Linked DNA regions of Homo sapiens. The protein of the gene in region 3 purifies or fractionates together with the protein of the main gene of each other region. This does not show direct contact. Each region holds a gene or a part of one and is shown on either strand. Other genes may lie near its edges.

Region 1 (7,738 bases), on a different chromosome or scaffold from region 3:
ACTAGGACATCTTAAAGTATTTGTGCAGAAAAAGCATCAAAGGAATCACCTTTGTTGGTTTCAAGTCTGCCAATAACAGAACTGAGGAACTGTCTCAGTTTTAAGTTTTTTCAGTGGATACTTCATAATAAAAAGAGTACTTTAGAGTCAAAACTGGCAATAAAGAGGGCTTGGGAATTCAGCCATTGGGGGAATCCCTTGCCTAATTCGAAGTACCTTTCTCATTCTGCTAGATAAAGTATTCCTATTTCAGTCAAAAAGCAAAACCTCTTGCTTAGACTTAATATATTTCATTTTACATTTCAATATTTTTATTATGAATTAGGAGTTGTAGAATCAGCGTTTTTTTGAAACCATTACAATAAAAATATTACTTTGAACTGAAACATTTTGGTTCTATGCTCAAAAGATGAGTTTGCAAGATTTTTTGTCATAGTAATATGAGCTGTTCTTGGAAGGGTCGAGAGTGTGGACAAGAGGGTTGGGCAGAGTTGATTTTTTTTTTTTTTTGGGAGACCGAGTTTTGCTCTTGTTGCCCGGGCTGGAGTGCAATGGCGCGATCTCGGGTCACTGCAACCTTTGCCTCCCGGGTTCAAGCGATTCTTCTGCCTCAGCTTCCCGAGTAGCTGGGATTACAGGCACGTGCCACCACACCCGGCAAATTTTTGAATTTTAAGTAGAGACGGGCTTTCGCCGTGTTGGTCATGTTGGTCTCGAACCCCTAACCTCAAGTGATCCACCCGCTTTGGCCTCCCAAAGTACTGGGATTACAGGTGTGAGCCACTGCACCTGGCCAGAGTTGAACTTTTTATACCATGTCATCTGTTATAGATAGGCAAAACTAGGGCATCTGAGTTAAATGAGATAACAAAAGACTTGTAGTAAAAGAAAAGAATTAGTTCTGTTATTGCATTTTATAAGACTATTAAGAAACAGGCTTTCAAACTCTGTTGTGCGTCTGATATTCTGAGTTATAAAGCACTAAAAGACTTTTTTAAATTGAGCTTTTGATATCAAGCTGTGACACAAGATTTTTTTGGTCAAGTTGGTAGTGTCAAGCCAGAGTGTAAAGTTATTGTAAGAAAAGTGAAACAGCTGTTTGGAAAGATCTTGTGTATTTGCAGTATGTCAGAGGGTAATTGGGGGAAAAAAAACTTAGGCTCAATAATTTTCTAACATTGTCTTTAACTCTTGAATTTCATAAAATGTTGCCTCTATCTCTAGAAAGTAGAAAGTAGTAGACTTTAATAGATGATGGATTGGCAAGAGAAGAAAATGAGAACGTGGTGGCTTTTTCAAAAGATAATTTCCAAGAGTATGTTGCATTTTCGGTCTTTTGTCACCTTCTGTGCAACCAACTCCTACACTTCTGAGTGTAAGACTGACCCAGCTTCAGAGCAAGACTTTTCCTCAAAAGCAGAAATTTTTTTTTTTATCTTTTGTCTTAAAAATTAAGACTTTTTTTATGTGAGGTATTTGAGGTGGGAAGATAATGAAGACCAATCAGTGACAGAAAGTGGAGCATTCATTACCTCAGTTAAGTTTGCTATAAAAGCATTTTACCATGGTCACTGCATGTTCTCTCATCTCTTAAATATTTTAAAAGTGTCTAACATCTAATGACACTCGGATTAGATGTTACAAGGAAATCTATGAATCCTTTGTCAAAAAAAAGTTCTTTGTTTTACTTTTTAGGTCGCAGACGTTTCTTGTAAATATTTTAAAACATAAACTGGAAAATTTAGGTTTGAAGACCTATTTATTGTTTGTTCAAGATTGTTCAAAGTTTTCCTTTTGAAAAAAAGGAAGCTTGAGTTAATTACAGTTAATAAGCCAGATGGAAGAATTGAAGTTGCAACTCAATCCTAGAAAATTTAGATGAACTTCTTAATTCTTAGTGCTTATTTCAGTAAGTTGAAATGAGTGATACGCACAATATCAAGCCATTTCCTTATTTATCATAGCTAACTTATTTTTTGTCTTAACACAGCTACAGAAAGATCTAGAAGAGGTAAAGGTGTTGCTGGAAAAGGCTACTAGGAAAAGAGTACGTGATGCCCTTACAGCTGAAAAATCCAAGATTGAGACAGAAATCAAGAACAAGATGCAACAGAAATCACAGAAGAAAGCAGAACTTCTTGATAATGAAAAACCAGCTGCTGTGGTTGCTCCCATTACAACGGGCTATACGGTGAAAATCAGTAATTATGGTATGACTTGCTTCCCTATAGCCAGTTCTGCCTCCGAGCAACCTATTCCTCATAGTGGTCTAACAAATTCATCCCCAATGAGTTTTGAGTCTGTGTTTTTGGTGGTTTGGAGCAAGACCCATCAGTTTTTATTTAATAAAACTTTTTTAAGATATAAATAGGAAAGGATGCGTTCTAGAAGCTGTTAACAAGAGTAAGGTGATTCACTACAAAATGTAACAACAAGGAAGGAACTTATTCTGAAATTGTTCAGTATAAGACACAGCTTTGGTGGTGGTGGTGGTGGTGGTGGTTTTTAATCATGTTTTATGTTTCACTCTGCCAACCACCACAATTAACTGAGGAGAGGAATCCAGTTAAATTCAGGAAATATTTTTGAGCACCTAATGTGTATCACTATTGTGCTTTGACTTACGGATACACAACAGTGACTAAGACCCAGTCCTTGCTCATGTTGTGGTTGGGACATTGACGTATAACTCGTAGTATAACAATGTAGTAATACTGTTTTCCTTCAATGGTGTATACAGTTTTTTGTTTTGGCGGCAGCGCAACTTGAATATGAATGATGAGCTCTCATTGGAGCAAGGACAGTCTTGTTTTTCTTTGTGCTAATAATGTCTAGCACATAATAGGTAACATAGCTGAAGAAATAATTCTGGAGGTGAGGAACAGGGAGAATTAGAGAGATTTGAGTGTGAAGGGTGAGTCGTACATTCAGCAAGTCAAAAAGGAGGGGAACAGCATGAGCAGAGAATGTGAATAGAGAGTTGGAAGGCATGATCTATTTTGAATATTGTTAATAGTGAAAAGCATGTGTATGTCGTGCTTAAGAGATGTACTATATAGTAATATAGGAAATTGCACCGTGTACTCAGTTGAGTATAGGAAACTGGTCTGAAGGTGTTGAGGATTATGGTATTTTAACCAGGAACATAGATTTGTGTTGAGGGAGAAACTTGTCAATCCGGAGGATGGACTGACTGAATGGGAAGAAACTATTAATAAATGAAGTTCTCTGGACCCCACTAGGGCATTTTTTCATCAACACTGTTTCTTTTTAATTTTCGAGGGTACATAGTAGGTGTATATATTTATGGGGTACATGAGATGTTTGATATAGGCATGCAATGTGAAAAACGTCATGGAGGATGGGGCATGTTTCTATTCTATAGGACTAAGTGAGCAATAGTCAGGGATATGTATGTATATATTCTTGATAAACAGAAGATGCTTTTTTGTGAAGTTTTTTATTTTCTACAAATGTGATGGTATTTTGTGAAGTATTTATATATATGTCTTTTATGTTGACAGAGTTCTTCTAGGTCAGAGACGTGCTGGTAGTTTGATAATACATACTGAAATGGCATTTAACAGATACCAGTAGGTTTGTCAGATTTGGATGAAGAATTGGAGTCTTTTACATTCTACTTTGCCCTGGAAAGGAATTAAGAGAGCTAGGATTCCATTTGTTTGACTACTTACAGAAGTAGAAATGGTTATGGAATTAGTATTGATACTTAGCCATCCAGCTTAGTGGAGAACTACCAATATTTAGATGTCGGACAAAATTGTTTCCATAAAAGCTGTAAATGAACTAATCTTAAAGAATGTATTTAGTGATCATATTTTTATTCTGAGGGATAAAAAGAGCATAGGTTTTGTATTCAGAAACCTGGATTTGAATCTGAATTCTACCACTTGTTAGATGCCTAGCTTTGGGTAGAGTACTTAACTGCTTTGAGGCTCCATTTCTCAACCTAGAAAATTTCTTATATTTCAAATTTTTTCATGTTTATATGACTGGATTTTCATAATTTTACTTTCCTGACTTATGAGCCATGTGCATTTGCTGTTCTAAAGATAGTTTCAGAGGCTTACTTACGTCCCATCTTTTGTTGTCGTTGCCAGGATGGGATCAGTCAGATAAGTTTGTGAAAATCTACATTACCTTAACTGGAGTTCATCAAGTTCCCACTGAGAATGTGCAGGTGCATTTCACAGAGAGGTGAGTTCTCATTATAATGGGAAAGACAGTGAATTAACAGTCAACATTGCCTTATCTTGAGACTCTCTTCTTTGCAGTTTTTAAAATTCTTAAATTTAGAATTAATTATCCTTTACAACTACTTTGAAGAGGTGAGCGTTAACTGGCCAAATGCACACCCTGAAATAAAGCCAGCAGCTTTTTTCCCACAAGAACTATGGAGTAAGGGTACCTTTCATAGAACTAGAAAGATGATGTATTCACCATTGTGTTGCAGGTCATTTGATCTTTTGGTAAAGAATCTAAATGGGAAGAGTTACTCCATGATTGTGAACAATCTCTTGAAACCCATCTCTGTGGAAGGCAGTTCAAAAAAAGTGAGTGTGCTTTTTTTGATTGTAATATTGTGAAACCTTACCAAATTGAACCTGGCTGATTTAGAACTGAGATGAACTGGAATGAATTTGTCCTCTGTAACAGGGACCACCGCCTGTTTTGTGAATGTTTTATTGGGACATAGCCAGGCTTATTTGTTCATGTGTTGTTTGTGGATGCTTTTGTGCTACAATGGCAGAGTTAAGTGGCTACAGCAGACCATATGGCCCTAAATGAAACCTAAAATATTTACTATGCGGCCCTCGACAGAGAACATTTGCCAACTCCTTTTGTAGAATAGGCTATTGTAAGAATATTCCATTAAAATCAGGGAGGAAGTAAACGTTTGAAGGTAGTTAAGAGTGAGACTTGAGTTTTATGCCAGGTTTACAGCTTATTGTTTGTGACCTTTGGCAGCTTAATCACTCTGTGCCTCAGTTTCTGCATTTATGCGATAGTAATAATTTATTTCACAAAGTTGAAATGATACACTGAAGTGCAATACCATTATGTAAAGTGCTTAAATTAATGCTAGTGTTAGCATTGTGCATAATACTCGTATACATAAAAGGAGGTCTTAAGCACTTAGCCTCCTTGGAGTTAGAAGCAGCTATAAAAATAAGGAAACTGTCTTTTAAAAACTACTCTTTGTAATTTTTACTAAATCAGATAGTCCCTGTTTTCTGCCTAATGTGAATAAATGAAGTTTAATGCGTTAGGTATATAGACATGACATTCTGCCATCTGTTTTTATAATACATAATTACTTAACAGCTTACAGGTGATACTCAAATATAGTTGGATTCGCTGTCTTACTGCACCCTTCTGCATCCGCTAGTCCCATAGGTAGAGTACCAAAAGATCCCTAGTATTGATCATTGTTTAAAAGACCTGTACATTGCCCTTCTTTCTCACTTTCAAATGCCTCACCTTGCCCCATACTGCCTTATACGACTTGGTTTCTTGCCTATCCCCGACCCCTCTTATTATATTACTGTCTTTTTCAGTCACTAAAATCCAGCCACTCCTCCTGCTCCTCAAACACACCAAGATGATCCCATCTTGGAGCCATTCTGCATGCTCTGCCAACTGCCTTCTCCTGACCTTAGGCTTCGGCTCAGATTTGCCTCAGAGAGGCCTTCCTAATGAAGTTCCTGCCCCCACCCCCCATTAACACCCGCTTTGTCTTGATAGCACTTTCCAGGATATCAGGGTATTCAAGTTTTACTTATTTATGGTCTTTTCACACCATGAATGTTCAGATTTTGGCCTATTCATACAAGTATTACTGGCACCCAAAATAAGTCTATACATACTAGGGACTTGATCAATTGAATAGATAATTGTTTTATAAATATTCATGCTTATCTCCATGTCTTCTAAGCTGTATTTGTTTTCCTGCTTTTCTTCCAGGTCAAGACTGATACAGTTCTTATATTGTGTAGAAAGAAAGTGGAAAACACAAGGTGGGATTACCTGACCCAGGTTGAAAAGGAGTGCAAAGAAAAAGAGTGAGTCTACTTCCATTTTTTTAAAGAATTTTAGTGTATTGTTTGAGATCATGGATTTTTAATAGTTTGTCTTTATGGATAATGTATTTCTGCTTTCAACTGTCAAACTACCTGAAGAGGGCACGTCCAGCAAGTTGCTTTTTAAGGTCTTTGTAGTTAAGGGTTGGCTCTTTAGTGTGGTTCTTAACCCTAGGCGCAGTTGTGCTTCTATACAAATAACTGTGCCCATTCCCAGATACTCTGTTTCGGTAGTTTGAGAGGGGCTTAGGTACCCCTGTATGTTTTAAATTTCTCAGATGCTTCTGATGCGTAGTTTTCATTGTCACTGGTTTATAGTGAAAAAGATAAAATATTTTTATCCTTCTTAATAATGACCTTTTAAAAATGTGTATTCAATGATACTTGCGTTCTAGGTCAGTTCATCTTCTAAAGGTACTGACTAAATTAATTCAAGACCCAGGCCCAGATCTGTGTATCTCAGGCTTAAGAGGAGAGTTTTTCTAATTAAAAAATACATGAGCTTCAGGGTACATCCATGTGTAATGTTTATGATTTTCCCTCAAGTGTTTTTTTTCAAATTATGAGGAAACATGCTTTTAAAAAATGAAAACAAGTTAGAAAATCAAATTCTTATTTTACCTGTCAAAAATCACAGGAGGCCAGGTGGGGTGGCTCACGCCTGTAATCCTAGCACTTTGGGAGGCTGAGGCGGGCGGATCACCTGAGGTCAGGAGTTTGAGACCAGCCTGGCCAACATGGTGAAACTCTGTCTCTACTAAAAATACAAAAATTAGCCGGGCATGGTGGCATGTGCCTGTAATCCCAGCTACTCGGGAGGCTGAGGCAGACAGAATTGTTTGAACCTGGGAGGCGGAGGTTGCAGTGAACCGAGATGCGCCACTGCACTCCAGCCTGGGCAACAGAGCAGGACTGTCTCAAAAAAAAAAAAAAAAAAAAAATCATGGGAAATCCCTGTGCCTAAAAATAGCCCCTAACTATTTTGATGACCTCTTTCGTGCACCAAGTGTGTGCATGCTTGATACGTGTGTGTTGTTTTCATTAAGATGAATTTGTGCGTGCCGTTTTGATTGTAAATATCTTTGGGTACTCTGTCTTCCTTCTTATCCCTCTACTTCCTGCCAGTGTTAACAACCTGAATGATAGTATCTTCCGGTGCTTTCGTTTCCCCATTGTTGTATATGTTTTCTTTTTAAAGGAAGCCCTCCTATGACACTGAAACAGATCCTAGTGAGGGATTGATGAATGTTCTAAAGAAAATTTATGAAGATGGAGACGATGATATGAAGCGAACCATTAATAAAGCCTGGGTGGAATCAAGAGAGAAGCAAGCCAAAGGAGACACGGAATTTTGAGACTTTAAAGTCGTTTTGGGAACTGTGATGTGATGTGGAAATACTGATGTTTCCAGTAAGGGAATATTGGTGAGCTGCATATATAAATTTGACAGATAGCTATTTACATAGCCTTCTAAGTAAAGGCAATGAATTCTCCATTTCCTACTGGAGGATTTATTTAAATAAAATATGCTTATTAAACACTCCTGCAAAGATGGTTTTATTAGTACCCTGGTCATTTTGTTCAAGGAAGGGTTATATTGCATTCTCACGTGAAATATAAAAAGCAAGTCTTGCCCA
Region 2 (7,738 bases), on a different chromosome or scaffold from region 3:
ATGCGTGTTTTTGTTTTCTCTCTTTATATTTTCAAATTTTTCAACAATAAACATGCATGGTTTTTGTAACATGCAAGTATAATGGTTATTTTTTATTTTTCTTTTTTTTCTGGAGCGGAGTTTCACTCTTGTCACCCAGGCTGGAGTGCAATGGCGCAATCTCGGCTTACTGCAACCTCCACCTCCCAGGTTCAAGCGATTCTCCTGTCTCGGCCTCTCAAGTAGCTGGGATTACAGGCACAAACCAGCACGCCCAGCTAATTTTTCTATTTTTAGTAGAAACAAGGTTTCACCATGTTGGCCAGGCTGGTCTCAAACTCCTGACCTCAGGTGATCCACCTGCCTTGGCCTCCCAATGTGCTGGGATTATAGGCATGAGCCACCGCACCTGGCCATTTTTAATTTTTGAAAAGATAACGTTGCACAGCACTGCAAAGCTAGATTTATTAAATTAATGAAACACTTATCTAGTAACTATTTTCAAAACCTGATTAACTGTTTTGTCCTATAACAAATAGTGATAGTGGCTAGGTATGGTGGTTCATGCCTGTAATCCCAGCACTCCGGGACGCCAAGGTGGGAGGATTACTTGAGCCCAGGAATTTGAAACCAGCCTGGGCAACACAGTAAGATCATGTCTCTACAAAAAATTTTAAAAATTAGTGGGCATGGTGGCATGGGGCGATAGTCCCAGCTACTAAGGAGGCTGAGGTGGGAGATCACTCGAGCCTGGGAGGTTAAAGCTTCACTAAGCTGTGATTGTACCACTGCGCTCCAGCCTAGAGTGCATGAAAAAACTTTTCTCATGTACCTTGTCTCAAAAAAAAAAAACAAAAAAAAAAAGAAAGAAAAGAAATAGTGATAGTAACAAGTGAGGACTCCATAAAATGTTTAGTGAAGTTAGATCTACTTTGAGATATGGGTAGAAATCTAGTCTAGAAAACAGAGTAGTTTAAGTTTCATGGATCTTGGGGTAATTTCTAATGAAAGGAAAGGCAGGCACTTCATTGAAAAACCTAAGTACATCCCTTAGGATCTGCCCTCTAGGATCCTGGCTATGACCCCATTCTGCTGGAAACCACGCGGACAGGAAGGGGCCTTTACCTGAGTGGCTTGTGCCAGGGAATCCTGAGTGACTTTGGTCAGTTTCCGTAGATATCGCCCATAAATTACAGCAATGATTGACACTGGAGGCACCACGCTCAAAACAAAGGTGGCCAGATTAGGTGAGACAAAAAACTGTCAAAAACAAAAAAAAATTCAGAGGTGTTTGTTACATTGGGTGGCAAGACATTCTCATTACCTACGAAAGGGGAGTGTGTGTGTGGGTGTGTCTGTGTGTGTGTGTGTTTAAATTAACAGCAGGCTTGAAGGTACTGTCCCCAAGTTGTTACATCCTGTTTTGATGGAATTTTTCAGACATCTTTATTCTTCACAAAACCCCATAAATATTCAGCATGCCACATAGAAGAAATGTGACAAGAAATTGCTGAAGAAAGAATCCTCAGGCCAATACTAGATCAGACCACGCGGTTTAACAACAGAGTGGGAAGAGACAGGATGGGGGTTTGGCAGAGGCCCATTCTGCTCCACGCTCCAGTCCACCTCAGGAGTTGTATATTCAGGTCTGAACCACCTGCAGGCACTGAACAACCACAGCAACACGTCCCATCAAAATGACCAAGATGGTGAAGTCACCAAAAAACCCCATTATCGGGTGGGGTGTGGTGGCTCACGCCTGTAATCTCAGTACTTTGGGAGGCCGAGGCGGGCAGATCACCTGAGGTCAGGAGTTCGAGACCAGCCTGACCAACGTGGTGAAACCCCATCTCTACTAAAAATACAAAAATTAGCTGGGTGTTGGGGCACGTGCCTGTAATCCCAGCTACTCGGGAGGCTGAGGAAGGAGAATCGCTTGAACCCGGGAGGTGGAGGTTGCAGTGAGCCAAGATTGAGCCACTGCACTCCGCCTGGGCAACAAGAGCAAAACTCCATCTCAAAAAAAAAAAAAAAAAAAACAGCACATTGCATAACAGTCAACAGAGGACTTGGAGGACACAACTAACAAGTCGAAGAAGAATTAGAGCTGCTTTTATGGCTCAGTGGACTGAAGTCAGCAGGATGGATCTGGGCTCAATATACTGAGGAGCTTCTAGCAATTGGAATTGCTGAAAGAATAACCTAACTTCTGGAAGTAAGTAACAGAGGGTTTTCCTGTCAACATTGCAATTTGGTGATTGTACTTTCAATAGTACTGGCATCTCTTCGACAAATTACTAAAATCTACCATATCTCATTTGCACAGAAAATAGTATAATCAGTACACGGCTAAATAATACTAAGGAAAAACTGCAAACTGAAACATAAGTGGATGGATCAACCAATCATTCACTCATTCATTTACTCATTCAACAAGTTATTACTGAGAGCCCACGTTACTGAGTGCAAGCACTATTCCAGGCACCTGGGAGATAACCAACCCTCACAGAGTTTTCATGCAAGAAAGAAGAGGTGAGACTTAGATAATAAACAAGTAAAAGAAAGAGAAAGTATCACTGCAGATGTAACACAATCTTGGAAGACCTCTCCCCCAAGAGGGAAGAGCCATTGCATAAAGGCCCTGAGGCAGAAAGGAGGTTGGCACCTTCACAGAGGAGCAAGCAGATGTGCATAGGAATGTCCCACCCTGAGAAGACAAGTCCATCAGGACACCTGGGGTGAGTCTTGGGGAACATAATCATATCTCTGATGGTCACCATCAGGACATGAGACCAACAGGGCAGGTCTAACACTTCTGGGGCCTGAACACAACTGATGTCAAAATGAACCAACTGGACAGGTGTCCTCTGTGTAGGGCAGGCACAGTCCATCAAGATTCTCCTAGAACTGTCCAGAACCACCCCCCTCCCTTCACTCTGGTTCCACACTTAATGAAAAACCTTCTGATGACTAATACAGGGTGCTGGCACCATAATGAAGTGTTTTGAATAGCAGAAATGGGCTAGGCATAGTGGCTCACGTCTGTAATCCTAGCATTTCGGGAGGCTGAGGCAGGCGGATCGCTTGAGCCCAGGAGTTCAAAACCAGTGGGCTGGGCAACATGGTGAGACACTGTCTCTATAAAAAATACAAAAATTAGCCGGGCATGGTGGCGCACGCCTGTGGTTCCAGCTACTCAGGAGGCTGACGTGGGAGGATCACTCGAGCTCGGGAGGCAGAGGTTGCAGTGAGCCAAGATGACACCACTGCACTACAGCCTAGGCAACAGGGTGAGACCTTCTCTCAAAAAAAAAAAAAAAAAAAAAAAAAGGAATAGCAGAAACACAACTTAATGGTGGGTAGGCCCACTATGTAAATTAATAAATTGGCAGTATGCCATACACAATATCAGGTTCTCATAACTGGACTTCCCCTATGTCAGGTCCATGAGTTTGTGCAGGAGAAACAAAGTCACATTTCTGATCCCCTAGAGCCAAAGATCAGATCCTAGGTGAAGCCACTTCCTGAGGCCCTTTTACAGACTGAATGGAAATTCCCCCTGAAATTCACATGTTGAAGCCTTAATCCCCACCATGGCTGTATTTGGAGATGGGGCCTCTAAGAAAGTAACTAAGGTTAAATGAGGTCGTTAAGTGTGGGGCCATGATCCAATAGGATTAGTGTCCTTATAAGAGACACTAGAGCACACTCTCTCTCCACTATGTGAGCACATGGCAAGATGGCAGCTGCCTACCAGCCAAGAGAAAAGGCCTCAGAATGAAGCTATTTTGCTAGCACCTTGACCCTGGACTTCTAACCTCCAGAATTGTGAGAAATACATTTCTGTTGTTTCAGCCAAGCCACAAGAAAAGGCCTCAGAATGAAACTATTTTGCTAGCACCTTGACCCTGGACTTCTAACCTCCAGAATTGTGAGAAATACATTTCTGTTGTTTCAGCCACCCAGTCTGTGGTATTATTATGGCATCCCAAACAGACCCCTTTGAATTGCTCATCTGACCTACACTGAATTCCCTTTCCTTGTTACAAAAAGTACCCCAAGTGATTTTTCCCAGCTTGAACTCTTCCTGATCCCCAAAACTATTCATATTTGGAAAACGGCATGTTAGTGCAGGAAGGGTCCTCTTCCAGAGGTTTGCTTCTCTCTTAGCTGGAAAATCATGAGATTTCAAAGCTGTTTTTCATTCCGTAAGTCAGATCTAATAGGCAACACACCCTTCCTCTCTAAGTGCTTCATGGGACACAAAGGACAGAATCCAAGCTTTTCCACTTGTGAGAAAGGATTATTTACAGTTCTTATTCCACGAGTCTAGAACTGCACTGCCCAAAACGATAGCCCTACTGGAAACTTGAAATGTGGCAGGTATGACTGAGACATTGACTTTTTAATTGTATTTAGGTTTAATTAAAATTTAAAAGCCTATACTCCATTCAGTTATTGGCAAACTATTAAGTATGTCTGGAAAACTTGAGTATGTCAAACTACTTTTTCAATTGTACATTTTATAAAATCTAAATATAGATCAAGTACTTTCAATGAAAATTTAGCATCCGAATTAAGATGTTCCTTAAGTAGAGAATACACACCAGATTTGGAAATTCAGTTGACCTTTGAACAACATTGGTCTGAAATGCATGGGTCAACTTATACATAGATTTTCTTCCATCTCTGCCACCCCTGAGACAGCAAGAACAACCTTTCTTCCTCCTCTCAGTCTACTCAGTGTGAAGACAATGAGGATAAATACTTTTGTGATGAGCCGGGCGCAGTGGCTCACGCCAGCAATCCCAACACTTTGGGAGGCTGAGGCAGGCAGATCACGAGGTCAGGAGTTCAAGACCAGCCTGGCCAACATAGTGAAACCCCATCTCTACTAAAAATACAAAAAAATTAGCGAGGCGTGGTGGCTGGCACCTATAATCCCAGCTACTCGGGAGGCTGAGGCAGGAGAATCACTTGAACCCGGGAGGAGGAGGTTGCAGTGAGCCAAGATCGTGCCATTGCACTTCAGCCCGGATGACAGTGCGATACTCCGTCTCAAAAAAAAAAAAAAAAAGCTTTTATGATGATCCACTTCCACTTAATAAATAATAAATATATTTTACCTTCCTTATGATTTTCTTAATACCATTTCTTTTTTCTAGCTTACTCTGTTATAAGAACATAGTATATAATACATATACCAAATACATGGTAATTGACTGTTAATGTTATCAGTAAGGCTTCTGGTCAACAGTAGGCTATTAGTAGTTGAGTTTTTAGGGAGTCAAAAGTTATACTTTGATTTTTGACTGTGTGGGCTTCAGTGTCCCAACCCCTGCATTGTTCAAGGGTCAACTATAATATGAAAGAAATAATATAAAATACCTCATTAATAATTTTGATATTAATTACATCTTGAGATGACAATATTTTGTTTATACTGGCTTAAACAAAACATTATTAAAATTAATCTCAGCCAGGTACAGTGGCTCAAGCCTGTAATCCCAGCACTTCAGGAGGCCGAGGCAGGAGGATCACTTGAGGCCAAGAGTTTGAGACCAGCCTGGGCAACATAGAGAGACCCTGCCTCTACAAAAAATATATATATATATTCTTTAAATTAGCCAGACTTGGTGGTGTGTGCCTGTAGTCCCAGATACTTGGGAGACTGAGGTGGGAGAATCACTTGAGCCCAGGAGTTTAAGACTGCAGTGAGCTATGATCTTGCCACTGTACTCCAGCCTGGGTAACAGAGTGAGACTGTCTCTAAAAAAATTAAAATTAAAAAAAAAATTAATCTCATTGGCTTCTTTTTGCTTTTTTAAATGTGGCTACTAAAACATTAAAATCACATATGTGGCTTGCATTGCCTCTCCAATGACCTGCAGCACTGGGCTGAATAGAAATACTGGTTGAAGAGGTAAGGCAAGCAGACAGGACAGGCACAAGCCACCCAGTTAAGGAAAGGAAAAAAGGCCATGGGAGTGAAGAGCTCTCCCCTTAAAAGAGCACAGTTCGACTTACACACACAGAGGAATGGAATTTAGTCACCGCTTGGTGCCACCCACAGGGTAGTACCCAGTGCTCCTTCTACCTGATGCTCTTTTCTGCCTTAATACCCCGGGTACACACATCTCAGAATACCCAGCAGTAACACATGAGTCCATTTTCCAGATAATCACTCATTCTGGAGAAATGAAGGTACAAGAGGCCATGCAGGCAGAGGCAATCCCCACGTTCCAGCAGCTTCTGCAACAGCACTTTTGGCTCTAGGCACTTACAGAATGATGCGAACCGCTCAGCTTGAGCTCGTCTCACACGTGAGAGGCCTGGTGCAAGCCAAGCCCTGGCAGGAAGGTACCAAGGGGAACCAGGCCCACATACCATCATACTGATGCCTACGGAAGCCTGGGCCCCGGCCCTGAGCCCATCTGAGAGGTTTTCAGTCACTGAGCGCCCCAGGAGTGCAGTGTCTGATGAGAGGCGGTTAATCAATTCTCCTGTGCGAGTCTTGTCAAAGAAAGCAACCTCCTGCCTCAGAATGGAGGAGAATAATGAAGTTCTCAGCCTATTCACAATGCGCTGACCTGCAAAAGCAAACACGAACAGGCTCACCAAGGGTAAAGACATCCATTACCATTATGGGGCAGCCACTTACTGTGCAGCAGCTTGGCCTGGAGTTGTAACCCTCCTGAGCAATGCAGCCTCTGAGCGTGTCTGCTGCACTGTATCCCATGGGTGGAAAGAGACTTTCCCAAACCAGGCACATTAACTGTCATGCACTACTAACACTACTTTTCTCTTATTAACTACAGACTGTGGGCGCTAGTGAGAGGATACAGGAATAAAATAAATATAACATGACTCAGAGGCCTTTTTTATTTTTACTTTTTTTTTTTTTTTAAGAGACTGGGTCTTGCTCTATCACCCAGGCCTGAATGAAGTGGCACGATCACAGTTCACTGTAACCTCAACCTTGTGGGCTCAAGCCATCCTCCCACCTCAGCCTCCTGGGTAGCTGAAACTACAGATGTCCGCCACTACACCCAGCTAACTTATTTTTATTTTTTATATAGACGGAGTCTTGCTATGTAGCTCAGGCTGGTCTCAAACTCATGGGCTCAAGCAATCCTCCTGCCTCAGCCTCCCAAAGTGCTAGGATTACAGGCATGAGCCACCACACTTGGCCGAGATTTTTTTAAGGTATTATTTACAAAGAAGTTTTATTACATTAACTTCCAAAAGCTCATTTTGTTCCTCCCTGGAAACCCTTTCCTGTATTGAACCTTCAAATGGCAAGAATTGGTTAATTATCCACAGAGATAAATGGAGAGCAACAGACTTCGAGTTGGTGTCCCAGGTTCTCTCATTATTGTGGCAGTGACCTGCCTGTAAAAACAAGACCTCTTCAGAGAAATACTAACAAAGTTATCATCCCAGCTGCTACTTAAGGAGAAACACAAGCATGGGGCATGTAAATGGGTTTCTGAAGCCTTCAGGAAGCCTCAGAAGTCCAGCTTCATGGCCAGGGGCCTCATTTTCTTTTTTTTTCTTTTTTTTTTTTTTGAGATGGAGTCTCGCTCTGTCCCCCATGCTGGAGTGCAGTGGTATGATCTGGGCTCACTGCAACCTCTGCCTCCCAGGTTCAAGCGATTCTCCTGCCTCAGCCTCCTGAGTAGCTGAGATTACAGGCACACACCACCACGCCCGGGTAATTTTTGTATTTCTAGTAGAGACGGGGTTTCACCATGTTGGC
Region 3 (7,738 bases):
TTACAGGCGTGAGCCACCACACCCAGCGTGATAACTCAAATTTCTTAGGAATGCATTTTAAAGGAATAGGCTGTATTCAGGGATGCCAATGAAGCTGGGAATTGTTACCAAAATAAATAAATAAATAAATAAAATAATCTACCATATAGTCTACAAGCCTAGCTTACTTAAACATCGCAGCATCTTTACCTGCCTTCCAGATTTTTAGACTTTAGCTGTTGTTCTCCTTCATTTATTTGTTCTTCTAGCACCTTTATTCTGGCTTCTCTCTGCTCTGGAGTTTCTTGACCAAAGAGCTTGGTAGTCATTCCCTTCAAAGAGAATGTTCTCACAGTCTAAAAGGAAACAGAAACAGATGAATGGATAAACAAAATGCGGCATACACATACACATACAATGGAACATTATTCAGCCTTTAAAAGGAATCAAATCTGATATATGCTACAACATGGATAAACCTGCAGGACATTATGCTAAGTGAAATAAGACAGATACAAAAAGACAAATACTGTATGATTCCACTTATATGAGACACCAGTGTTTACACTGTATTAGGTATTAATAATCTAGAGATAATTTAAAGCAGGGGGTCCCCAACCCCAGAGCCACGGAGTGATACCAGTCCATGGCCTGTTTGGAACCAGGCTGCATAGCAGGAGGCAAGCGACCACCTGAGCTCTGCCTCCTGTCAGATCAGCAGCAGAGGCATTAGATTCTCTTAGGAGCACGAACCCTATTGTGAACTGCGCATGTGAGGGATCCAGGTTGTGTGTTCCTTGTGAAAATCTAATGCCTGAGATGATCTGAAATGAAACAGTTTCATCCCGAAATCATCCTCAGCACCCCCTGCCCTGGTCCATGGAAAAACTGTCTTCCACAAAACAGGTCCCTAGTGCCAAAAAGGTTGGCGACTGCTGATTTAAAGTATACAAAAGGATATGCACAGGTTACATGCAAATACTACACCATTTTATAGAAGGGACTTAAGCATCTGAGGATTTTGGTATCCCAGGGATCCTTAAACCAATCTCACTGAAGATACTGAGGGATGACTGCACTACTGAACTATATACTTAAAAATGGACAAGATGGTACATTTTATGTTATATATATTTCACTACACACACAAAGGAAATAGAAAACATTTGCCATATTTCCCCTAAGTCAGACAAAACCACCATAAGCTTCACAACCAGGGATCTCTTATATGAGTTTTTATTTATTTTTACAGAGTCATAGCCAAGAATCCTAATAGAATTTCTAACACTGAAATAATATGGAGTAGTCAAAAAGAAGACACTTCTAACTGAATTTCTTTTTTTTTTTGAAATGGGGTCTTGCTCTGTTGCCCAGGCTAGAATGTAATGGCACAATCATGGCTCACTGCAGCCTCAACCTCCTGGGCTCAAGTGATCCTCCCACCTCTGCCTCCCAAGTGGCTGGGACCACAGGTGCATGCCACCACACCCAGCTAATTTTTAAATTTTTGGTAAAGACAGGGTCTAGCTATATTAATCCACACTGGTCTCAAATTCCTGGGCTCAAGCAATTCTGGGTTTACGCCTCTGCTGCTAAAGGTGTCGGGATTGCCATTGTAAGCTACCATACCCGGCTTGAATTTCATAATCAAATGGAAAACTTCCACGTGAAATATTAGACGTTATTTCTTACTCTGTATGAATGATATTTTAAAAATTACTTTATGTTATAAAAAAAGTCGATAAATTCACTAGGCAACTATGGAAATAAACCAAACTAAAGAAGCATATTTAAAATCTGCATAACTCAACGCTCAAACTTGGGCATCTATTAATAAAACAGGATACCTAAATCCAAGCATGGGAAGGCAACCCCAAGCTTCACTGCTTTAACATTTCCTCACTCTCTGGAGTTTACTGAAGAAAACACTTTTCCCTTGACATGTAGGATAGAGAACCAAGCTCCCTGAAAATGGCCTGGGAACTTCTCCCACTGAGTTTTAAAAATAAACCAAGGGCCTAGTTTATACATGTGTCCTGGTCACAAGTCTTTCCCCACATATATCTGTGACTTTTCACAGATGTAGCCAGTGGGTAATCTCTGTGAAAAGCACTTTTAAAACTATAGTGCTTGGCCAGGCGCGCTGGCTCATGCCTATAATCCCAGCACTTTGGGTGGCCGAGGCGGGCGGATCACGAGGTCAGGAGATTCAGACCATCTTGGCTAACATGGTGAAACCCCGTCTGTACTAAAAGTGCAAAAAAAAAATTGGTCGGGCGTGGTGGCAGGCGCCTGTAGTCCCAGCTATTCAGGAGGCTGAGGCAGGAGAATGGTGTGAACCCAGGAGGTGGAGCTTGCAGTGAGCCACACTCTAACCTGGGCAACAGAGCGAAACTCGGTCTAAAAACAAACAAACAAACAAACAAAAACTACAGTGCTTATTAACTAAGTAGAGACATTGCTGCTGGTTTACTACTTTCAGAATGTGTGTTGCTCACCATGATGGCTGATTTATTGCAATGAAATAACTGGAGTAGAAAGCTGATTATAAAAATGATCCAAGACTAATGCAATCAGGTACAGAATTTTCCTCACAAGTACTCACTGTAAGCATTAAAGAATAAAGTACATCAAAAGCTCCCTGTTAGGCGAGATGCACTGGTTCTAAGTGGGTAAGGCTTTTCAAAGTCAACTAAAATTTCTGCAAAGTACCTTGCAAAGTTAAACCTGATAAAGGTCACTGCATGTTTTTTCACTTGGACTTAGAAACCAGATGATAGACTAGGCATGGTGGCTTACCCCTGTAATCCTAGCACTTTGGGAGGCGGAGGTGGGAGGATCACTTGAGTCCAGGAGTTTGAGACCACCCTGGTCAACATGATGAGACTATAAACAAAATTAGCCAGGCATGGGGGCACATGCCTGTGGTCCCAACTACTCAAGAGGCTGAGGCAGGAAGACCACTTGATCCCAGGAGTTTGAGGCTTCCATGAGCCCTGATCATACCACTGCACTCCAGCCTGGGAAACAGAACCAGACCTTGTCTCAAAAAATAAAAATTAATAAAAACAATTTTTTTGAGATGGAGTCTTGCTCTGTCACCCAGGCTGGAGTGCAGTGGCGTGACCTCGGGTCACTGCAACCTCCGATTCCCTGGTTCAAGCAATTCTTCTGCCTCACCTTCCCGAGTAGCTGGGACTACAGGCGTGAGGCACCACACCTGGCTAATTTTTGTATTTCTAGTAGAGATCGGGTTTCACCATGTTGGCCAGGCTAATCTCGAACTCCTGACCTCAGGTGATCCACTGGCCTTGGCCTCCCAAAGTGCTGGGATTACAGGTGTGAGCCACCGTGCCCAGCCCAATAATTTTTTTTTTTTTTAAAACGAAACCGGATGATACTGATTACACCAGAGAAATGTTGGCAAAATTTCTTATAATTCTATACAGTACATGGTTTTAATGGCTTACATCATTTTGTATCAAGATAATAATAAAAGAATTATAAAGTTACTCACAAATTATTCCCCTGTAAAAGGTTCAGCCGTCCTGAGTATTGTAACTGGAACTGATTCTACAGGAGTGAGTTACTCACTCAGAGTGAGTGCTTGTGAGGAACATTCCGTGTTGCTACAGTATCATCAGAGGCCAAAAGGAAAATACTCACCCCAGTTACCAGTTCCTCACACTGCTGCTTCTTGGATGCTAAGTCCTGAGCAGCCATCTCCAAGTCATACTGCATAAGTTCATGTTTCCTGCACACAGCCCTACAGATGAAAAAATGTGCTGCCATTTAACTTTTCCTTTAACATGTCAAACATTTTTTTCAAGGGTAGAGGAGAACCATTCACAATGTCTCGCTAGGGCAGAATGTGTGTGCCCAGAATTTTCAAGTTTAAAATGTAGTAGCCCAACATTAAAAATGGAATCTAATGGAATCTAGCAGAACCTAACCATAAAAACTTCATATATTCTTTTTTTTTTTTTTTTTTTTTTGAGACAGAGTTTTGCTCTTGTTGCCCAGGCTGGAGTGCAATGGCGCGATCTCGGCTCACTGCAACCTCCGCCTCCCGGGTTCAAATGATTCTCCTGCCTCAGCTTCCCTAGTAGATGGGATTACAGGCATGCGCCACCACACCCAGCTAATTTTGTATTTTTAGTAGAGATGGGAATTCTCCATATTGGCCAGGCTGGTCTCAAACTGCTGACCTGAGGTGACCCACCCACTTCGGCCTCCCAAAGTACTGGGATTACAGGCATGAGCCACCTGTACCCGGCCAAAAACGTCATATATTCTTAACACAAAAAAAGTTGTTTTCCATATACTTGGAACATTTCTTTCAATAAACATGCCATTATCACATACATAAAACATTTTTTAATGTATGTGAGAACTACATACATAATGTATACATATGTATACATAATTACATACATAATGAACTACATACATAATTAGTTCTTACATAATGTAAGAACTAATGCTGTAATCTCACATAGCAACTGAGTATTCTTAGAAAAGATAATACCTCAAAGTTTTCTTCTTTGTGATTTAGAAATGTCTATTAGGTATTTTTTTTTTTTTTTTTTTGGAGACAAGGTCTCACTCTGTCACCCAGGCTGGAGGGCAATGGTGCAATCTCGGCTAAATGCAACCTCTGCCTCCTGGGCTCAGGCAATCCTCCCACCTCAGCCTCCTAAGTAGCTGGGACTAAGGCATGTGCCACCATATCCAACTAATTTGTGCTTTGTAGAGATGGGGTCTCGCCCATGTTGCCCAGGCTGGTCTCAAACTCATGGGCTCAAGCAATCCATCCACCTCAGTTTCCCAAAGTGCTAGGATTATATGCATGAGCCATGTCGCCTGGCCTAGAAATGTTTATTAGTTTTTATGATCATAAAAGTAATCCATGTTCACTGTAAAAAGAAAAGATTCGGATGGGCGCGGTGGCTCATGCCTGTAATCCCAGCACTTTGGGAGGCCGAGGCGGGTGGATCACGAGGTCAGGAGATTGAGACCATCCTGGCTAACACGGTGAAACCCCGTCTCTACTAAAAATACAAAAAAAGCCGGGAGAGGTGGCAGGCGCCTGTACTCCCAGCTACGCGGGAGGCTGAAGCAGGAGAATGGCGTGAATCCCGGGGGGCGGAGCCTGCAGTGAGCCGAGATCACGCCACTGCACTCCAGCCTGGGTGAAAGAGCGAGACTCCGTCTCAAAAAAAAAAAAAAAAAAAAAAAAAAAAAAAGAAAAGAAAAGATTCTAATACAGCAATGCACAAAGTAAAAAAAAGAGGCTGGGCATGGTGGCTCATGCCAGTAATCCCAGCACTTTGGGAGGTCGAGGTGGGCAGATCACCTGAGGTCAGGAGTTCAAGACCAGCCTGACCAACATGGTAAAACCCCATCTCTACTAAAAATACAAAAATTAGCCGGGCATGGTGGTGCATGCCTGTAATCCCAGCTGCTTGGGAGGCTGAGGCAGGAGAATCACTTGTACCCAGGAGGCAGAGGTGGCAGTGAGCAGAGATTGTGCCACTGTACTCCAGTCTGGGCAACAGAGTGAAACTCCAACTCAAAAAAATAAAAAAAACAAAATACAACAAGAAAGTTCAAGAACACTCTCTTTCCTCCAATCCCACTATCCAGATATAATCGGTGTTACCAGATAGTATATAATCTTTCAGAATTTAGCTAGGCATTGACAAATACCATATCCATGCACCCCAAATGGTTCCTACATCTTTTCTCAAATGGCTATACACCCTGGCCATCTTTCCATGTCAACATACATTAATCCCTTTTATAATTTTTAAGAGCTGCAGAGAATTCCACTGTACTCAGCAACTTTCTTTTTTGAGACAGAATCTCACTCTGTCACCCAGGCTGGAGTGTAATGGTGCGATCTCGGCTCACTGCAACCTCCACCTCCCCTGTTCAAGCAGTTATTCTGCCTCAGCCTCTCCAGCAGCTGGGATTACAGGCACCCACCACTATGCCTGGCTAACTTTTTTGTAATTTTAGTAGAGACGGGGTTTCACCATGTTGGCTAGGCTGGTCTCGAACTCCTGGCCTCAGGTGATCCATCCGCCTTGGGCTCCCAAAGTGCTGGGATTCAGGCAGGAGCCACCTCACCTAGCCAACTTTCTTTTGCTTGGTGACTTGAAAATACATTGGTGAGACTTCCTACTACTCAAAGCCCTAGAAGGAAAACGAGCTAACAATGTGCAGATGATTTCACACCAATCACCACAGAGGTAAGGGAATAGTGCTCTTGTTTTCCTAACAGAATTCTTATACTGCTTTTAAAAGCGACAGGACAGTGTTGGCTCATGCCTGTAATCCCAGCACTTTGAGAGGCCGAGGCGGGTGGATTACCCGAGGTCAGGAGTTTGAGACCAGCCTGGCCAACAACGGTGAAACCCTGTCTCTACTAAAAATACAAAAATTAGCTGGGTGTGTTGGCGGGCGCCTGTAATCCCAGCTACTCAGGAGGCTGAGGCAGGAGAATAGTTTGAACCCGGGACGTGGAGGTTGCAGTGAGCCGAGATCACGCCACTGCACTCCAGCCTGGGTGACACAGCCAAACTCTAGTCTGTCTCAAAAAAAAAAAAAAAAAAAAGTGACAGGACAACTGACCAAAAGCCACCTATTCTGGGAAAATAATTCCTTTTTCTAAACTGATCAGAAAAAAATATATTAACTTTTTCCTAGTCACGTAGGACTATCTAAAAGAGAATTCCCTTTGGCTCTGTAAAAGATAACATAAGAACAGATAAGAAAGTCCTTGTTACATAAGGACGTTGTACAAGCTACTGATAAGACACACAGAATAAAAATAGCAATATACAACATAGTAACAGATACTGTTACACACACTGAATCTGTATTTTGCTTCCAATCTTCAAACTGGAAAAAGTGGAAACAACAACATACAGGCACACTTGATGCCTGAGGCTGGCAGGTTTTATCAAAATGATGCTTCGAGGGCAGGCCTCATCTTACATGTTTATGCCTAGCACTCTGCAACACAGAGAAATACAATGAGACCTCATTCATTATCTGAGGGAATGCATTCATTTAAAAAACACTCTACTATCTGTACTTTACAGTGGCATATGAGGAGAGTGGTGAACAACCCTGTGGCTGCACCTGGAACTTTTATTAAACTTACCGCAATGCTTCTGCATAAAAAAGATACTCTTTTAACTGATCTGCATAATGTTCTTCATCTTCCAAAATATCATCAATAGAAGATGCATACCTGTTTTAAAAAAAAAAACACACATTGCATAGAGTTACTTTCATTGGAATACAAAGTATTAGGGTTCTAGAGAAGTGCAATTAGGCTGGGCGCAGTGGCTCACACCTGTAATCCCAGCACTTTGGGAGGCCAAGAAGGGCAGATCACTTGAGGTCAGGAGTTCGAGACCAGCCTGGCCAACGTGGTGAAACCCTGTCTCTACTAAAAATACAAAAATTAGCCGGAAGTGGGGGCGGGTGCCTGTAATCCCAGCTACTTGGGAGGCTGAGGCAGGAGAATCTCTTGAACCCGGGAGGAGGAGGTTGCAGTGAGCCAAGATCATACCAGTGCACTCCAGCCTGGGTGACACAGCAAGACTCTGTCTCAAAAACAAACAGACAAACAAACAAACAAAAAACAGCAATTCTAAGTGTGGCCCACAGATAATTTGCTACCCATCAGTGATGTTGTAAGTACAGACAGTGAGAATTAGCGTTTAGAATCACTGACAGCAATGTG
Region 4 (7,738 bases), on a different chromosome or scaffold from region 3:
TTCAAGAGTTTCTTTACTCATACTTTTTAATATAGTTGGCTATTTAGTGTTTATGCTTTTGGAAGAATAAAGTTAGCAAATTATGATTTGTCAATTACAAATGTGTCTTGGCAGCACATATCAAAGCCCAACCAACCATGAATTAAATAGATGAGGGTTTATGTATTCACATATACATAGATGCCCAAAGGTAGGCAGACTAGGTCTGGCATAGTGACTTAAAAATAGTTTGGGGACCCAAACACTTTCTCATCTTTCCCTTCCAATATTCCTTAGCTGTGTAGGTTCTCATATGCATACTTATGATCTCATGGTTACGAGGCATTTGATGTTCCTCCTCCAGCTCACATTCCTATCCCAGGCAGGCAGGAAGAGCAAAGGGGTCTATATCTGGAAAACATAAGCTCTCCCAGAAGCCCTCTGCCTGTGTCACATGACTTTCCTTAGCTACACAGGAGTCCAGGAAAATTTTTTTTTTTGGCTTTTCTAAACACTCCTCCTCTGAACAAAATTACACTTCTGTTACTGAGGAAGCTGGGAGAATTGATATCAGAGAAGCAACTAGCAGTACCTGTTATGTGGGATTTCCAGCACTCACAAATGGTTGCTGACCTTTTACCTTCCTGGGAAAAAACAGAAAAACTAAAACAGCAACCCAGAGTTCTTTAAAAAAAAAAAAAAAAAAAAAAAGCAGGTCAATATTGTGGTCAACAAGTTATCCTAGCTCCATATAATAGAATAATGTAATTAGAGTTTATAGAGTATAATTATTATTATTTTTATTTATTTATTGAGGGGGGTCTTGTTTTGTTACCCAGGCTGGAGTGCAGTGGCGCAATCTCAGCTCATTACAACCTCAGTCTTCCGGGTTCAAGCGATTCTCATGTCTCAGCCTCCCGAGTAGCTGGGACTACAGGCACACACCACCATGCCCGACTAATGTTTCTGCATTTTTAGTAAAGACGGGTTTTCACCATGTTGGCCAGGCTGATCTTGAACTCCTGACCTCAAGTGATCTGCCCGCCTTGGCCTCCCAAAGTGCTGAGATTACAGGCGTGAGCCACCGTACCCGGCCTAGAGTATAATGATTAATGTTTATCCCAGTGATCTGAGTCATCAAGAAAAGGTTTATAATAAAGTTAAGATAGTATTTAATGCATTTTAGAAAGACTTTTCTTTAAACATTTTTGTTCTTTGAGAGTTTTATGTTCTTCTGTCTGGAAGACTTCATCCCAAATGCCTGTGATTGTGCGTATCACAGCCATTGTTTACTGCCTAATTGGTTTTCATATTCTGCAAGTTCTAACCCTCTGAAGTGATGCCCAACCTTTTCCCCGCATACGATGGTTCTCAGGGCTGGCTGCTGTGAGCTTCACTGTGTTGTTTTCTGACAGTGCTAATGCCTGGGCCCTCCTGCTCAGCTTTTGGTTCCCTCTGCTGCTGTGGAACTCTGGCTTCTGCCTGTCTCAAGGCTCAGCACAAAAGAGAATTCGTAGCACTTTCATGTGAAAGCAGACCCAGTCATTATTATTTGTATTCAAGAAGAACATGGTAGTTTCAAAATGAGTGCTACTTTTAAAATACTTCTTGAATCTTTGAATATTTTCTTTGACTATCTTGAGTATACAGAACAGTGTAGGACATTGTTACCAGGTGATATTTTTAAACCTCTATTATGTACAGTTGGTAAGATAATATAAAAACAAATATTCTTAGGAAGAAAAAGCAAATACTCAAATGAAAATGAAAATTATAAAGAGTGTCAAAATGCTGGTTTGGAACAAATGAACAAATTTGAAAAACTCAGAACAAAGAACTATTAGGAGTAGGTAAGAAAAATAGAAACGCTGTGATTATTTTTTGCTAAATAGGTTTTAGTAGCATCGTCTCAGACAGATAAATGCTTACCCTTATAATTTTTTTTTTTTTAAATACAAGGTCTTGCACTGTCACCAAGGCTGGAGTGTAGTGACACGATCTCGGCTTACTGCAACCTCTGCCTCCCGGACTCAGGTGATCCTTCTGCCTCAGCCTCCCAAGTAGCTGGGACTACAGGCGTGCCACCATGCCTGGCTAATTTTTGTATTTTCAGTAGAGTCGGGGCTTCACCAAGTTGGTCAGGCTGCTCTCAAACTCCTAACCTCAAATGATCTGCCTGCCTTGGCCTCGCACAGTACTGGGATTACAGGCGCTAGCCACCACACCCAGCCCCTTATAATTTTCTTTGTAAAAAAAGTTTATAGGCCAGGCGCGGTGGCTCATGCCTGTAGTCCCAGCACTTTGGGAAGCCAAGGCGGGCGAACCACGAGGTCAGGAGTTTGAGACCAGCCTGGCCAACATGGTGAAATCCTGTCTCTACTAAAATTACAAAATATTGGCCAGGTGTGGTGGCTCACACCTGTAATCCCAGCACTTTGGGAGGCCAAGGCAGGCAGATCACAAGGTCAGGAGATCAAGACCATCCTGGCTGACACGGTGAAACCCCATCTCTACTAAAAATACAAAAAAATTAGCCGGGCGTGGTGGCGGGTGCCTGTAGTCCCAGCTAGTTGGGAGGCTGAGGCAGGAGAATGGCATGAAGCCAGGAAGCAAAGCTTGCAGTGAGCAGAGATCACACCACTGCACTCTAGCCTGGGCGACAGAGCGAGGCTCCGTCTCAAAAAAAAAAAAAAAAAAAAAAAAAAGTACAAAAAATTAGCTGGGCGTAGTGGCGGGCGCCTGCAATCCCAGCTACTGAGGAGGCTGAGGCAGGAGAATTGCTTGAACCTGGGAGGCGGAGGTTGCAGTGAGCCAAGATCGAGCCACTGCACCTCCAGCCGGGTGACAGAGACTCCATCTCAAAAAAATAAAAATAGATAAAAATTATAAATATTTTTTAACCTATTTTAATTTTCCATTGCCCACTAGTAGTAAGTTTCACACATTTGGTTTTTCTTAATACTTTGATTCAATTGCTGCATGTGTGTTTCTTAACAAATTTGGAACATACCAATTATAATGGTGATAATTTATTTGAATTACAAGCCAACATCAAGTAAATGAGTTTAAATATATTGTCTTTAAAATACTTAGATTGTACTAAACTTTTCAGAATTAAGACAGTTAAACATTTTTGATGTGCCCTATAATTGTCTCATGGAATATGAATATTTTCTGGATGTCAGTTCTCAGAAAAAAATTCTGCTCTGGAGTTATTGTCCTAAATCTGAAACGCTATGGGCTTACTGAATTATCCTTATTGGAAAAATACTTTTTTTCTAGATTAAGGGTGTTTTTTTCTCTTTAATTATCTGGACATATGACTGACTTTTCATATGTTTTGTACAGAAAATGGTATATTCTAAAAGATTTTTGTCATTTTGTCTTAAAGCCTGTGTAATCTATAGCCTTAATGATTTCTTCCTTTTTGTGTCACATTGTAGGACGGCAGTGTCCGTGGGCTGATACCTCTGTAGTGTTTCCATGGTGATTTCAGAATTTGTTTTTTCTCCTCTTCATGCCCACTCTAGGGTTCTGATCCCACTGCATTCTCCGTCCTTACCCAAGCCATCACTGGCCAGGTGGGTTTTGTGGATGTGGAATTTTGCACTACCTGTGGAGAAAAGGGAGCAAGTAAAAGATGTTCAGTTTGCAAAATGGTAAGAATGGAGTTCTTTTTATTTCATTGACCTCTGGTTTAGATGCAGCCAAGCTGATGATTGAGTTTTAATATTCTGTAAGAGTGGACATTAGTTTTCTAATAAATTCTAGTAACGAAAATATTCTATTTAATACTTAAAAAGTAGTTTTGGAAAAGAATTAATAGGATCAATATAGTTCTTTACTGTGTCTGTCTTCTGCTAAACTGCCAGTCTTCCTTTGCCTCTTTGCTGATCACCTCATGGAAAGAAAGGATATGAATGAATGAATATGAGAAAATAAGAGAAAGGTTTTCCGTGGGGCACGAGACCAAGGCTGGTGCAGATGTGAAACCTAGAATAGGACAGTTCATAAATATACATTCTTTACTCTTCTGATGTTGACTTTAATGACAGTGTCTTCATCAACATATCCTTGTAAAACTATAGTTTCTGACTGTTACCAGTCTTTAATCCCTATGGACTGTACTGCCCCCTTCTGCCAGAATTATCTTTGTAAAAGGCATATCTGATTGTGTTGTTCTCATATCCAGATACTGGACACATGCATGTGTCCGTACATTCACTTAATCCCATAGGTAGCATCAACTGCCTGTTGACTTTAAGGTTGAAATTCTCCAGCATGTTGTATGAAACCCATTATAATCTGCTGTGACCTACTTCTTCAGCTTCATCTTGTTTAATGACTTACTTCTCTGAACCTGTTTCCTGAATTAAATGAAATTCCAGAATTAAATCAAACTATTTATATTGGTTAATTATTACTGCTTATAAAAACACACTCAAACTCAGTGCTTAAAATGATAATCATTTAGTCTTTCTCTCACAGTTGTGGTTGGCTGTTCTCAGCTGGGGCAGTTGTGCTCCATGTGACTCTCATCCTTCTTGTACTAGCAGGCTAGGCTGAGCATGTTGTCATGGCAATAGCAAAGGTACACATGGGCAGGTAGAAACACAGAAGACCTCTCAAGGACTAGCCTTGAAATTGCCATGTTGTTTCATGCTGTTGGTTGAAACAAATTACATGGCCCAATCTGAAGTCAAGTCTCCTCCCCTTCAGTGCAGAGAACTTTGAAATCATGTGAGAAAGTGTATGAATGCAAGGATGAATGAAGAATTGGGGCCAATAATACAATATATGTATAAGGGCCTACCACAGTGCTTGGCATACAGTAAGTGTTTAATAACATTCATTCCCATCTCCTTTCCACCCCTACTTGCAAAAATATAAGGCCATTTACAAAAACTTCTTGCTGTTCTTGAACATATCATTCACTTCCCTGTTCCTGCATTTTTGTACTAGATATTTTCTCCAGTTAGAATTCTTCTTTCCCATTTTTCTGTCTACCTCGACTCACCACAGCTAGAGTGAGTTGCTGCTTCCTCTATGCCTCCATCACTCTTACATCCTGTACTGTGTTAAGAAATTATGTATTTAGGTGCCTGCCTCTCTCCCTTCTTCCATATCTTTCTTTTTCTTGATGCTAGCTACCTTTGGGACAACTCTATCTTCCTTGTCATTGTACTGTACCAATTCTGGCACATAGCGGGTTCATAATAAGCTATTTGCTAAAGTCTTTGGTAGACTGTTTGTTATATATTCATTATTGTTTTAAAGTAAAGCTACAAACTATAAATCTAAATCAATACAAAGATACTGTGTTAGGCCGTTCTTACGTTGCTATAAAGAAATACTTGAGACTGGGTCATTTATAAAGAAAAGAGGTTTAATGGGCTCACGGTTCTGAAGGTATACAGGAAGCATGGCATGGGCATCTGCTCAGCTTCTGGTGAGGTCTCAGGAAGCCTTCAATTATGGTGGAAGGTGAAGGGGGAGCAGGCATGTCACATGGCAGGAGCTGGAGCAAGAGGAGGTGGGGGAGTTGCCACATACTTTTGAACAACCAGATCTTGTAAGAACTCACTCAGTATTGTGAGGACAGCACCAAGGGAAGGGTGCTAAACTGTTCATGAGAAAACCGCCCCCATGATCCTATCACCTCCCACTAGGCCCCACCTCCAACATTTGGGATCACAATTCAGTATGAGATTTAGAGGGGACAACATCCAAACTATATCAACCACATATTATGGTTTTAAAATAAAGTATGGAAAATGACATTTTTATAGCTTAGTTCTTGGTTTAGTCATAGTTAGGAAATCATACAACCCAAGCTCTGGAAATGAAAATAAACCAACAATTGCTTTCAGGTAATATATTGTGATCAAACCTGCCAGAAAACACACTGGTTTACTCATAAGAAAATCTGTAAGAATCTGAAGGACATTTACGAAAAGCAACAGTTGGAGGCTGCCAAAGAAAAGAGACAAGAGGAAAACCGTATGTATATAAAAACCGAGTTCACTCTGCTTTTTAGTGGAGAGAGAGATGATAGGTGATCTTAACACACTGAAACTGCGTCTTCTCTGGAAGCCATAGGAGCTCAGGAGTGACCGATGTAAGAATCACATTTAAATTTTAATGTGTCCCGTTTTTAAGTTCTTAGGATATAGTCAGCCTGGACATCACTGGAAAACAGAGACATCAAATTCTGAGGGATGTAGCTTATTTCATATTTTACATTCTAGCTTAGGTTACTGCCCTGGAACAATGGGACCCTTAATGGGTATTAACTTATATTCTGCTCATGAAGGATTTTAAAGTCTTTGAATAAGGGAATTAATTAAATTTCCACTAATGGCTACCAGAAGATTTTAAGGGTGGAAGCCTTTAAATTCCTTAATTAAATTTCAGAACTACAGGTGAAATTACAGAGTATATTTATAAATCATTCATTAAATTGCAGATCTAATATACAGATCAAATTTCTACAAGTGTCATAGCAGTGAATTTTGTATTTTTTTTTCTCCATCCCTCTTGAGGTTTTGTGACCCATTTTCATCAGAAATAGTGAGTTGCTTCAGCAGTGATTATCAGATTGGAGAGGAGAACTGCCCCCACCCTCATGCCTCATTCCAGAGAATGTATCATATGTTCTGGGGGAGTGCATGTAATTTGAAAAAGATGCCTCGGTTATTCTGATACCAGGCATTTCTGCCTCCATCTCTCAAGGAACCATATCCGCTTTACTACTGGGTTGAGATATACTCTCAGTGGAATTAAATGGTTTGTACACAATTAAACCATTTATCCTTAAGAGAATAGTCAGGCTTTCTGACTGCCATGCCTTCTCTTGTTTTCTTGACCAAACTTTTTTATTCTATGTGCTAAGGACAGAAAGTAACAAATGTTCATTACTAACACACTATTGAGGGAGAATAAGATTGTCAGTAGAATGGGCACTCCCAGTTGTTAAGCATCATTCATGCACCAAACACTGCTCTAAATGTTACAGACAACTTTATTCTTCACCAATGTAGGATAGCCTTTATTACCTGCATATTATAGACAAGGGAAACAACTTCATGCAGGCAATTACCTCTCCAAGGACATCAAATAAATTCACAGAAAAGCTGTATTCAAATACAGGCTTTGTCAAATCCCAAGCAACAATCTTGATTTAGAGATGGCTTTGGAGCCAGCGGCCTGAGTTCAAATGCTGGTTCTGCTGTTTCACTAGCCAGGAAACTTGCAGCAAGCTACCAAACCTCTCTCTTCTCAGTTTTCTCATTTGTAAAATAACGTTAGCGATGACAGTAGAGATACTAATATACCTCATGTAGTTGATAGGAAGATTAAATAATACATGTAAAGCATTGAGAAGAGTGTCTGACACATGGTAGGAACAAAATAACTTCTTCTTTTTTTAATCAGACGGCAAACTTGATGTCAATTCTAACTGTGTTAATGAAGAGCAACCAGAGGCTGAAGTAGGTATCTCTCAAAAGGATTCCAATCCTGAAGATTCCGGGGAAGGAAAGAAAGAATCTCTTGAAAGCGAAGCTGAGTTGGAAGGCTTACAGGATGCTCCTGCAGGGCCACAGGTGTCTGAGGAGTAAAAGCCAGAGCAAGTGCCAGTGTGGATGATCCTCACCCTGCAAGAAGCTGGAAAACTCCTAGGAATGCATTGTCCTCACCTTGTTATACCTGCGTGGCACCATGGCAGGATTCCACATTTCATAGAATACAGGTTTTCAAG

What was found.
Region 1: the proteins of SNX4 (region 3) and CACYBP purify together in Homo sapiens (affinity purification with mass spectrometry; 2 studies listed by BioGRID and IntAct, with this or other methods). This does not show direct contact.
Region 2: the proteins of SNX4 (region 3) and ABCB10 purify together in Homo sapiens (affinity purification with mass spectrometry; 2 studies listed by BioGRID and IntAct, with this or other methods). This does not show direct contact.
Region 4: the proteins of SNX4 (region 3) and ANKMY2 purify together in Homo sapiens (affinity purification with mass spectrometry; 2 studies listed by BioGRID and IntAct, with this or other methods). This does not show direct contact.

What each region holds. Positions count from the first base shown.
Region 1 is NC_000001.11:175,002,624-175,010,361, forward strand, and holds part of CACYBP (calcyclin-binding protein), read left to right. Parts: intron 1-1,990; coding exon 1,991-2,210; intron 2,211-4,121; coding exon 4,122-4,218; intron 4,219-4,474; coding exon 4,475-4,574; intron 4,575-5,985; coding exon 5,986-6,083; intron 6,084-7,299; coding exon 7,300-7,456; 3' UTR 7,457-7,738. UniProt on the Homo sapiens protein: May be involved in calcium-dependent ubiquitination and subsequent proteasomal degradation of target proteins. Probably serves as a molecular bridge in ubiquitin E3 complexes. Participates in the ubiquitin-mediated degradation of beta-catenin (CTNNB1).
Region 2 is NC_000001.11:229,541,133-229,548,870, forward strand, and holds part of ABCB10 (ATP-binding cassette sub-family B member 10, mitochondrial), read right to left. Parts: intron 6,570-7,738; coding exon 6,367-6,569; intron 1,240-6,366; coding exon 1,105-1,239; intron 1-1,104.
Region 3 is NC_000003.12:125,453,621-125,461,358, forward strand, and holds part of SNX4 (sorting nexin-4), read right to left. Parts: intron 7,241-7,738; coding exon 7,151-7,240; intron 3,746-7,150; coding exon 3,646-3,745; intron 336-3,645; coding exon 190-335; intron 1-189. UniProt on the Homo sapiens protein: Involved in the regulation of endocytosis and in several stages of intracellular trafficking. Plays a role in recycling endocytosed transferrin receptor and prevent its degradation.
Region 4 is NC_000007.14:16,600,621-16,608,358, reverse strand, and holds part of ANKMY2 (ankyrin repeat and MYND domain-containing protein 2), read left to right. Parts: intron 1-3,447; exon of another isoform or gene 3,448-3,509; coding exon 3,510-3,638; intron 3,639-5,849; coding exon 5,850-5,979; intron 5,980-7,413; coding exon 7,414-7,598; 3' UTR 7,599-7,738. UniProt on the Homo sapiens protein: May be involved in the trafficking of signaling proteins to the cilia.